Linked DNA regions of Homo sapiens: region 1 is linked to region 2. A link means that fine-mapping ties the variant in region 2 to the expression of a gene that starts in the linked region. Tissue or cell type: esophagus mucosa. Region 2 holds a variant in brackets; the other region holds the start of a gene. All regions are shown on one strand. Distances are between the middles of the regions.

What was found. PIP is the estimated chance that this variant, and not a neighbour inherited with it, causes the effect.
Region 1: it holds the start of CRYL1, and the variant in region 2 is fine-mapped to the expression of CRYL1 in esophagus mucosa (GTEx, PIP 0.98).

Annotation. Positions count from the first base shown.
Region 1 is chr13:20,523,224-20,528,231 of GRCh38, forward strand. It overlaps CRYL1 (crystallin lambda 1), which reads right to left and starts at 2,634. Exons shown (of 8, transcript NM_015974.3): 1 at 2,531-2,634. The coding sequence starts at 2,571. RefSeq lists a silencer at 2,310-2,859 and an enhancer at 3,040-3,149.
Region 2 is chr13:20,491,203-20,496,202 of GRCh38, forward strand. The region is part of intron 2 of CRYL1 (crystallin lambda 1); the gene reads right to left. Among named protein-coding and RNA genes, the nearest start is that of CRYL1, 32 kb to the right of the region's middle. RefSeq lists an enhancer at 2,140-2,639. The variant G/C (reference allele first, on the strand shown) is at 1,980.

The sequences.
Region 1 (5,008 bases), 32 kb after region 2:
CCCATTTTTAAAAGTTATCACTACCAGATTTTCCTGCAGCCCTAGGCCCAAAAGAGTTTCTCTCATCCTCTTTCAAGCCCTCCCCATTCTGAAGGGACTTGCCCTGGATGTTTATAGGACAGCTAAGTGGCCCTAAGGAAGAGTGAACTTTGGAAAAAGATCAGCGGAAAAGAATTAAGTGGGACTGTATTCCTAGCAGGTACTTTCAAGATGAAATCTATAAACTGATAAGGAAAGCTGAAAACACAATATGCTCCTGAAATTGAAATATGTATATTTTGGTCTGTTGAAACCTAAGAATGAAACTGAACCAGGTTTTGGCAAATTAATTGACATTCCCCAAGCCCTATTTGTTAAGTGGGTGTTCCTTGGAATCACCTGTGGGGCCAGGAAAGAAATAGAGGGACGAGAAAGAAGGGTGGTAAAGAGGAAGGGAAGAAACCAGCACTGTCCCAGAGGCAGAGCTGGGTGTGTGCTGAAGTGCTGAGGGTGGGGGAAAGACAAGATTTTCACACCAGAAAACAAAGAAACAAGCAGAGGCCCCAGAGAATTATGTGGTCCTTAAAGTTTGGAAGCCTTTCTCTAATTCCTTATCAACATCCCTCAAGGAATCAGAAGTAAACTGTTAACTGAAGCTCCTCCTCAGTAGACTGAGCCACCCACAGCCAGATAACTGCACAATCAACTAAAACTTTACTTCACATGTATTAGGTGCATGCATAACACTACTCCAAGGCATGATGGACCTATACAAGGCCAAGCAAGGTGGCTCACAACTGTAACCCCAACACTTTGGGAGGCCAAAGCGCTTGCACCCAGGAGTTCAAGACCAACCAGGGCAAGATGGTGAGACCCCATCTCTACCTAAAAATTTTAAAAATCAGCCGGGTATGGTGACACATGCCTGCTGTGGGAGGATGGCTTGAGCCCGGAAGGTGGAGATCCACCATGATAGTGCCACTGCACTCCAGCCTGGGCGACAGAGCGAGACCCTATCCTATTAAAATTGTGTGTGTGTGCGCGTGCGCGCACGCATGCGTGTAAAAACTGTGTGTGTATATATATGTGTGAGTGTATATATATACACACACACATAAACTCTGGTAACTATTAATAAAATGCAAGACAGAGGTAACTACCACCACTGGTACAAAGTGCACTTTTTTTTTTTCAGACGGAGTTTCGCTCTTATTGCCCAGACTGGAGTGCAATGGCACCATCTCGGCTCACCGCAACCTCCGCCTCCCGGGTTCAAAGGATTCTCCTGCCTCAGCCTCCCGAGTAGCTGGGACTACAGGCATGTGCCACTACGCCCGGCTAATTTTGTATTTTTAGTAGAGACGGAGTTTCTCCATATTGGTCAGGCTGGTCTCGAACTCCCGACCTCAGATGATCCGCCTGCCTCGGCCTCCCAACGTGCTGGGATTACAGGGGTGAGCCACCGCGCGCGGCCCAAAGTGCACTTTTTAATATGCCTTCACTATTCAACCACGGGCACTCATGGGCCAGAAAGAACAAAGGCACAGTTAACTCCACTGCTCTGGAGAAAAGAAAGCTGACAACAAGGAATCTGATGCCTTCCTTCAGTGGGAAGGAAACACCCTGACATTGGAAGTGGTCTCCACACCGGGTTGTACACTGATGGGGGGCGGAGTCGGGGGCAGGCCAACACCTCAACAGCAGTCACCAAAAAGGTGCTTTTAACTATCAATAGCAAGTATTAACATGTTTATAGATTGCTGCTAACAGCTGGCCAAAGAAAGGTACATACAAATGCCCCTTTTTAAAAAACAAAAATAGCAAGGATTGTAACCGTAGGGGTGGGGGGCGGGGTGGGGGAAGCACACACTAAAAATCAGTTTGGGCAGAATTTAAGCTGTTAAATGGACACACTTAGCAAACTCTCTGGGCTCCATCGGCCCCCACCTCCCCTCTGGAAACATCGCCTCGCCCAGGAATTAGGACTGCGTGTATGTTCGCCTAACACCTGCTGCGGCCTCCAGCGACATCGTCGCCGACAGGACTGCGCTGGCACCCTCCCTGCTGGGCTAGTCCTGTCTCCGTCACTAAACGCCTGTGACCTTAGGTAAACTGCTTAGTCTCAGTATTCTCATTCGTAAAATGGGGATGAGAACACAGTCGTCGCAGGATCGCAGCCAGAATTCGTTTCATTCAACACGGTGCCTGGCACTTCTATGTGGACCTGCGGGCAGACGCGGCGACATTCAACAGAGTCCAGGAACCGCAGGCCCCGCGGCCTGGGCGGTCAACCTCGGAACCTCCTGCAACGCTGGCTCCCGGGAAGCAGACCCAACTCCGCGGGGCGCCTCCACCTGCCAAGCCCCTCCAGCCGCGCCTCTCCCCGAGCCCGCCAGCGCCGTAGGGGCCGCAGGGCGCAGGGCTTCGGAGGACCGGAGGCCGGGGCGGGGACAGCGACCCGGCGCCCACCCCGAGGGCCCCACGCGAGGGCACCACGTCCCCGGCGTCTCCCCGGGCTCCAGGGGCAGCAGCGCGGCTCGGAGCCCTTTACCTGCCAACGATCACCACGCAGCCGGCCGCGGAGGACGCCATGGTTGGGCCGGGGACGCGGCGCCGCGGGCGCTGGGACCAGGCGCCGGCGGAGCTGCGAGCTCTGGGCTCCGGGGAGGGCGGGTCCCGCGCCCATTGGCTGCGCGCGCGGACCGGGAGGGCGGGGAGGGCCGCTTGGTCCCTGAGTGGGGTGCGCGCCGCGGGCCCGAGACACCGGGAGACACACGGCGCGCCGACCCTCGTGGGCAGGGGCAGGACCAGCGCGGGGGCACGTCGGGGGGTGGAAAGCGGGAAGACCACGCGCTTGTGACTGTCAGCATTCACCGTGAAGTCCGTGTCTATAGGAGGGGACACGGGCAGGCTGGCACGGGCTCTAGCGCTAAAGCACCCTAGAGAAACTGTCAGAGAATGTCCCCTTTGCTAATTCGTCTCTGAAAGACGCCTGCCGCTGCCGCCAACTGCGAACTGGGCGCAGGGACTGCGACAGCAGTGAAAGAGAACACCTGATGCGTTCATCTGCGCTACGGAAGGACACGTCTGAATTCCTCCACGGAGCACACTCTGCACTCGGTTTATGTATCAGAAAAAGGAAATGCCCTCGTGCCCTGACTCCTGGCCTTCTTGGAGCCCGGAACAGACCAAGAGGAAGGGGCATCACACATTGCCTGACAGTGGTGTGCGTCCACACAGCACAAGCTGAACGGGAAATGACACAGTCATTAGACAGAGGAGACAGTACTCAAGCTGGAACCGCAGCCAACACTGAGATGATAAAAGGAAGTCTTCCTTTGTTTCCCCTGAGTCAGGAACGTGGAAAGAGAAATCTCAGGGGAGGGGTTAGGTTTTTTTGTTTTGTTTTGTTTTTTAAAGAACAGTTTCACAAATTATCGATAAATATTTGTAAAGTATTCAACCTCAAGAGAAATGAAAAGTAACACAAGGAAGATAAGTCATCTCTCACTCATCAGATTGGCTAAGTCACATGGATTGATTATATTCCCATATCCGTAATGGAGTGTTTCGGACATGCAACTTACACACAGTAGAAGGCAAGCTTAAATGTTGAGGACTTTTTGGAGGGAATGTTACAGTACATTGTTGAGACAGCCGCTAGCCTGAGCAACCGCGCCTGCTCTGGCTGAGAATACAAGGCTCCAAAGCTTCCATCTTCTGATGGAGCAGTTTCTGTAGTCAGTTACACAGGCAGCCAATATAATAATCAAGGCACCCAGGGAGTGAGCATCCTGTGACTGCTCACTACCGGAGGCTATGGGGGCAGCAGACTGGCTTGTTTGCTGCTCCCTGCAAAGTCATGCCTGAAATCCCAGCGCTTTGGGAAGCTGAGTAGTAAATAATAGCTTGAGGCCAGGAGTTCAAGACCAGCCTGGGCAACAAAGCGAGACCCCTGTCTCTACCAAAAAATTAAAAAACTTATCCAGGCTGGTGCCGCCTGTAGTCTCAGCTACTCAGTAGGCTGAGGCAGGAGGATTGCTTGAAGCCAGGAGTTTGAGACCAGCCTGTGCGAGATAGTGAGAACCCCCCCCCCCGCATCTCTAGTGTGTGTGTATATATATGTGTGTGTGTGTGTGTGTGTGTGTGTGTTTATATATTTATTTATTTATGTGTACATATATTTATAACTTTAATCCTTCTGGTACCAAACAAAAAAAATACAGATTTATTTAAATTAGCCAGGTGTGGTGGTGCATTCCTGTAGTCCCAGCTACTCAGGAGGATCTCTTGAGCCCTGGAGTTCAAGGCTGCAGTGAGCTATGATTTTGCCACTCTACTCCAGCCTGGCTAACAGAACAAGACTTTGTCTCAAAAGAAAGCAAAAGTGGCTGGACGCGGTGGCTCACGCCTGTAATCCCAGCACTTTGGAAGGCCGAGGCGGACGGATCACAAGGTCAGGAGATCGAGACCATCCTGGCTAACACGGTGAAACTCCGTCTCTACTAAAAATTAGCCAGGCGTGGTGGCAGGCGCCTGTAGTCCCAGCTACTCGGGAGGCTGAGGCAGGAGAATGGTGTGAACCCAGGAGGCAGAGCTTGCAGTGAACCAAGATCACGCCACTGCACTCCAGCCTGGGCGACAGAGCGAGACATCATCTCAAAAAAAAAAAGAAAGCAAAAAGTGCTGGGCCCTTGCTCGTTGCAAACACAGGAGTCATCTGGCCCTCTATGTAACCCTGTGGGAATTAAGGATCCAAGAACCCATATAAATATGGTGTCACTCTGGCTATTGCTTTTACTGTAATAAGATAATTTATTTTTAATCCAGGAGTCTCGTGACTTCTGTCAGCATCCAAGTGCAGAACCTCTGTTGCAATTTAGTGAAAATCTCAGACCCTTGCAGTTTCTGACATACACAAAATTTAGAATGTATGTACCCTTTGGCTTAGCAGTTCCAATTCTAGAGATCTGTTGTACAGAAATTCAAGTGGACAAGAAGTTAGACAAATTTCTTTATTTCAGCATGG
Region 2 (5,000 bases):
GGCCCTAAATTTTTTTAAAAGGAAGGAAAGAATCTTTGAGATGTTTTTCTCATATAAGTAATTTGGAAGATTCGTAATATATCAGCTTAAAAAAATCTACTTATCTTAAAATAGGGCCATAAAACAGCTATCTTATTTTGGACAATTATAAGGACAAACATACTGATCCCTGCTCAGATCTCATCACCCACAAAACAACTCAGTGTTAAGTACTAAATATCCTGGACCACCATCCCCAGTGAGCAGGCATTTTCAAATTTTCATATAGAACAAATTCCTTGAATTAGAGGCTTATAAAGTTAGTGAGGCCAGCCACAGTGTCTCACGCCTGTAATTCCAGCACTTTGCGAGGCCAAGGCAGGCGGGTCACTTGAGGACGGGAGTTTGAGACCAGCCTGGGCAACATGGTGAAACCTCGTCTCTACAAAAAATACAAAAACTAGCTGGGCGTGATGGTGCACACCTGTAGTCCCAGCTACTTGGGAGGCTGAGGTGGGAGAATCACTTGAGCCCAGGAGGTGGAGGCTGCAGTAAGCCATGATTGTGCCACTGTACTCCAACCTGGATGACAGAGCGAGACCCTGTCTCAAAAAACAAGCAAGCAAAAAACAAAAGTAAGTTAGTGAAAAATATACAAAACCAAATATGTGTCTTGGCCAGTTCATCTGGAAGTTTACTAGTTGCATAGGGTACTATGAGGTGTCTTAGCAACAGATTAGAAATTTAAGATTTCTAATAGCTAAATCAAAAAAGAACTGGTCCAAGGTAAGTGCCAGTAAATAGATATTTGAAACATCATGGAGGGAAATATAACAAAAAGGGTCATGAGAAAAGGTTCCTCTATTAAGGTAAAAAGGAAACGCAGACATTCACGGGTCCTACAGGGTCCTGCGATTCAGCATCAACAGCACTCAGCACACTTCCCTGAACACAGACTGTGCCTCTTAAGTGGCTTTATTCAGGAAAAGAGAGCACCATGTGATCCAAAGCTCATTTATCATTCACTGTGTAGTATGTTTTGATCCATCTTTGAAAATGTTGTTACACAACTCTGTAAACATACTATAAAACCACTGAATTGGACGTGTCAAATGAGTCAATTGTATGACATGTAAATTTATCTCAATAAAGCAGTAGCATTAATATCTTATTGCTACTGTAACAAATTATCACAAACAGTGGCTTAAACAATACAAATGTATTATCTTACAGTTCTAGAGGTCAGAAACCCCAAGTAGACTAACATCAAAGCGTCAGCAGGGAACGCACTCTTTCTGGAGGTTTCAGGGAGAATGCATTCCTGGCCTGTCTCAGCTTCTAGAGGCTGCCTGCATCCGTGGCTCATGACCCCTTCCCCCTCCATAGCCAGCCAACCCTGCCCCACCTGTTTCTGCCATCATGTCTCCTTCCTCCTTTATCCCTCTAAGGACCCATGTGATTACACCAGGCCAAGCCAGCTATTCCAGGATAATCTCCCCATCTTGCCATTCTTAATTCAATTACATCTGCAACGTCCCATTTGCCATGTAAAGTTCTGGCTCATCCAAAGCTATGCCAAAAATCTGGACATCTAACTGTGGTTGCAGGTATATTGTTCTGAGGATGATATGCAATTTGCTCCTGCCAGGCACTTGGGGGTGCTACCAACCAAGGAACCAATCTGAATTCTTGGCTTGGGGGTTTTCCAGATGACACAGGTAGTATGAATTTGAGGATTGCTCTATGGTTATAAATTCTCAGAGAAACTCTTCCTCCCCTCCACTCAGAGTCAATGCCCCCACCGGTGACCCTCCATTTAGGGGATCCAAGTTCTCTTTTTCGCCAATGATGTAGCTGTTAGAGAACTCTAGCTTCTGTCAGAGATCTCCAATTAGATTCCCATCTTGCACAGACTCGGGTTGGCTGTTACAATCGAAGCTCTAGATTAGCAAGACTGAGCAGCCGCCAGCTGTGGCTGTCAAGCACCCCTTGGAACTGGT[G/C]CTCCGAGGCAGGCCTCTGAAATTCTCCATTACCTTCTTGCCATGTGAGCTTACTACCATGACTTCCACGGACTGGACCCCACATGTGAATCTGGGCCAATGGCAGAGGCCCATAGGCAGCCGGTGGTGGCTGCAGTAACCAGCCCAAGGGAAGCCTGAGCCCTATAGCGACAGGGCGGTCAGAAATGCAGACCCAGGCCAGGCGCGGTGGCTCACACCTGTAATCCCAGCACTTTGGGAGGCCGAGGTGGGCAGATTACCTGAGCTCAGGAGTTTGAGACCAGCCTGGCAAACATGGTGAAACCCCGATTCTACTAAAAATACAAAAATTAGCCAGGTGAGGCTGCACATCCCTGTAATCCCAGCTACTTAGGAGGCTAAGGCAGGACAATCACTTGAACCTGGGAGGTGGATATTTCAGTGAGCCGAGATCACGCCACTGCACTCCAGCCTGGGCGACAGAGCTAAACTCCATCAGAAGAAGAAGAAGAAGAAAGAAGGAGAAGGAGAAGGAGAAGAAATGCAGACTTCCACAGTGGGCAGACTGGTTGAGGGCAGGAAGGAGCAACAGAAACACAGCCCGTAGTGGAGTCACCATGACCACAGGCCATAAAAAGTCAGGACTTTAGAAAAGGACACAGCCACCCTATAACTGCTGTGAGCTGCCAGAGCCACTGGCTGACTATCAGAGGCTCAGGTGTCCCCTGAACAATGTCTGTTTCTGCGACAAAGATGCAGCCGCAGAGATGGTGTCCTGTATCTCTTACTCCCTCGCCTGGTATCACAATCAACCCTCATCAAGAGCAGAAATCAGAGTACCCTGTCCTTTATAGCCTGAAAGGGCCTAGCGCAGACTTTGTTTGGAGATTACAACACATTTGAATTTTTCAGTTTTTAACTATACGATTTATATAAGTTTGACCTGCAGCAGTGGCTAAGCCTTGGAGTCAACATTGGTAAAAGACAACCACACTGCCCATAAACACAACCAGAAGAAAAACATTCATATGGCAGAAGAGCTATTTGTAGCTACCAAGCAAAAACTCACTTCAGCTTAATTGAAAGTTTTTTGTGTTACGGAGGAATAAGTGAGATGTTTAATACTGCGCCCATTGCTTTTCTAAGACTATTTCCTTTTCATAATTTATTTAAGAAATTTTAAATGTAGAAAGAATAATAAACATCCTCATCTCTCCACCCTCCAGAACTAACCACCGCCAATCCTCTTTGTCACTTTTTAAGTAAACAAAACCTAAATGAATCTCTTAGCGCCATCATCCCAGCCTCACCCAACCATCTTTCCACTGAACACACACAGGGTCTCTGGATGCCAAGGTCTGGGAACATAGTGAGTAACCATTGCATCCTTTAGGAAACTATGTCTGAGCGCCTGATGTGCTCAAAGCACCTGCTCCAAGCCTTAGTAGGCCAGCTGTGCGTCTTCAAACCTTTCCACTAATCCAAAGCAAACTTTTAGCCTTTTTTCCCAAAAGTACTGCATGAGATTAGACAGATAATGGGAGAACAGGAGTCTCTTGTTCCTCGATCCTCCAGGGACCACCCCGGAATGAGAATGTCCCATGGAGACAGCAAGCAGTGGCAAGAAAAGACACAACCACTCGCCTCTTTCAGAGCAGACTCAGGCTGAGGAATGTGCAGTGGTGGTTCTGCCTCAGGCCCTTCCTCCCTGGGCAGCACACACAGGTAGGACAGAGAACCTGGGCATGAGGGAGAGACACGGTCACACATGAACCCATCAGCCAACTGCAAACTCCAGGACCCTGCTGTGTGGTCCCGAGGGACGTCCAGTGAAAGCTGCGGAGGAGCTTCCGACATCTGCAGACAGACCCCTGTGTTCTCTTTAGGGCCAACAAATCCACATGCCACAAATCAAACCCAGCCTTTTGGCAACATTTTGTCCCAGTTAGATTAATTCCAATTTTTTTTATTCTTTTGGAAGAACTTCTGCATCAAGCTTTGTAGAAGACGTACATAAACACCTAGAAAAGATGTGCCAATCAACCGGGATTTTCAAATGCCACACACATACCAGGCTGTGGCATTGCCACACTTAACAGTTAACGTCAGGTTAGAGGCACTAGTAGAAGGCTGCAATGTGCCAGTTCTACCTCTAGAGGTCAGCCTAACACTAGGACTCAAAATACTGGCTCCTAACCAGTAAAGTTAAATTTTTACTTAAAATTAGAGAAAAGGAAATGTTAACAATTCTCACGGTAGGACAGGGTATGGGTGATTTTAATTTTTTTTAATGTTTCTATCTTTGAAATGTACTCAAAAGGAGCATGTATTTATTTTTAAAAAAGACTGAAGAAATTGGAACCTTGTGCACTGATGATGGGAATGTGGAAACGGCACAGCTGCTGTGGAAAACGTATGGTGGTAACTCAAAAAGTTAAAAATAGAGCCACCATATGATCCAGGAACCCCACTGCTGTGCATATATCCAAAAGAACTGAAGCGGGATCGCAAAGAGAGATTTGCACAGTCATGTTCCTAGCAGTGTTGTCAACAACAGAAGAAGCAAGCAATCCAAAAGTCCACCAACAGATGGAGGGATAAACAAAACATGGTTTCACACCTACGGTGGAATCTTATTCGGCCCCACAGGGGAAGGAAGTCCTGTCATATGTCATATGCCAGGCTGGAGTGCAGTGGCGCAGTCTCAGCTCACTACAACCTCCCCCTCCCGGCTTCAGGCGATTCTCCTGCCTCAGCTTCCCAAATAGCTGGGACTACAGGAATGCACCACCACACCCAACTGATTTTTGTATTTTTTAGTGGAGACGGGTTTTCACTCTATGTTGGCCAGGCTGGTCTTGAACTCCTAACCTCAGGTGATCCACCTGCCTTGGCCTCCCAAAGTGCTGGGATTACAGGTGTGACCCACCTCGCCCGGCCTAGGATGAACTTTTTACTTAACATTATGCTTAAGTGAAATAAGCCAGACACAAAAGGACAGATGCCATATGACTCCACCTACAACAGGTACCCAGAGCAGTC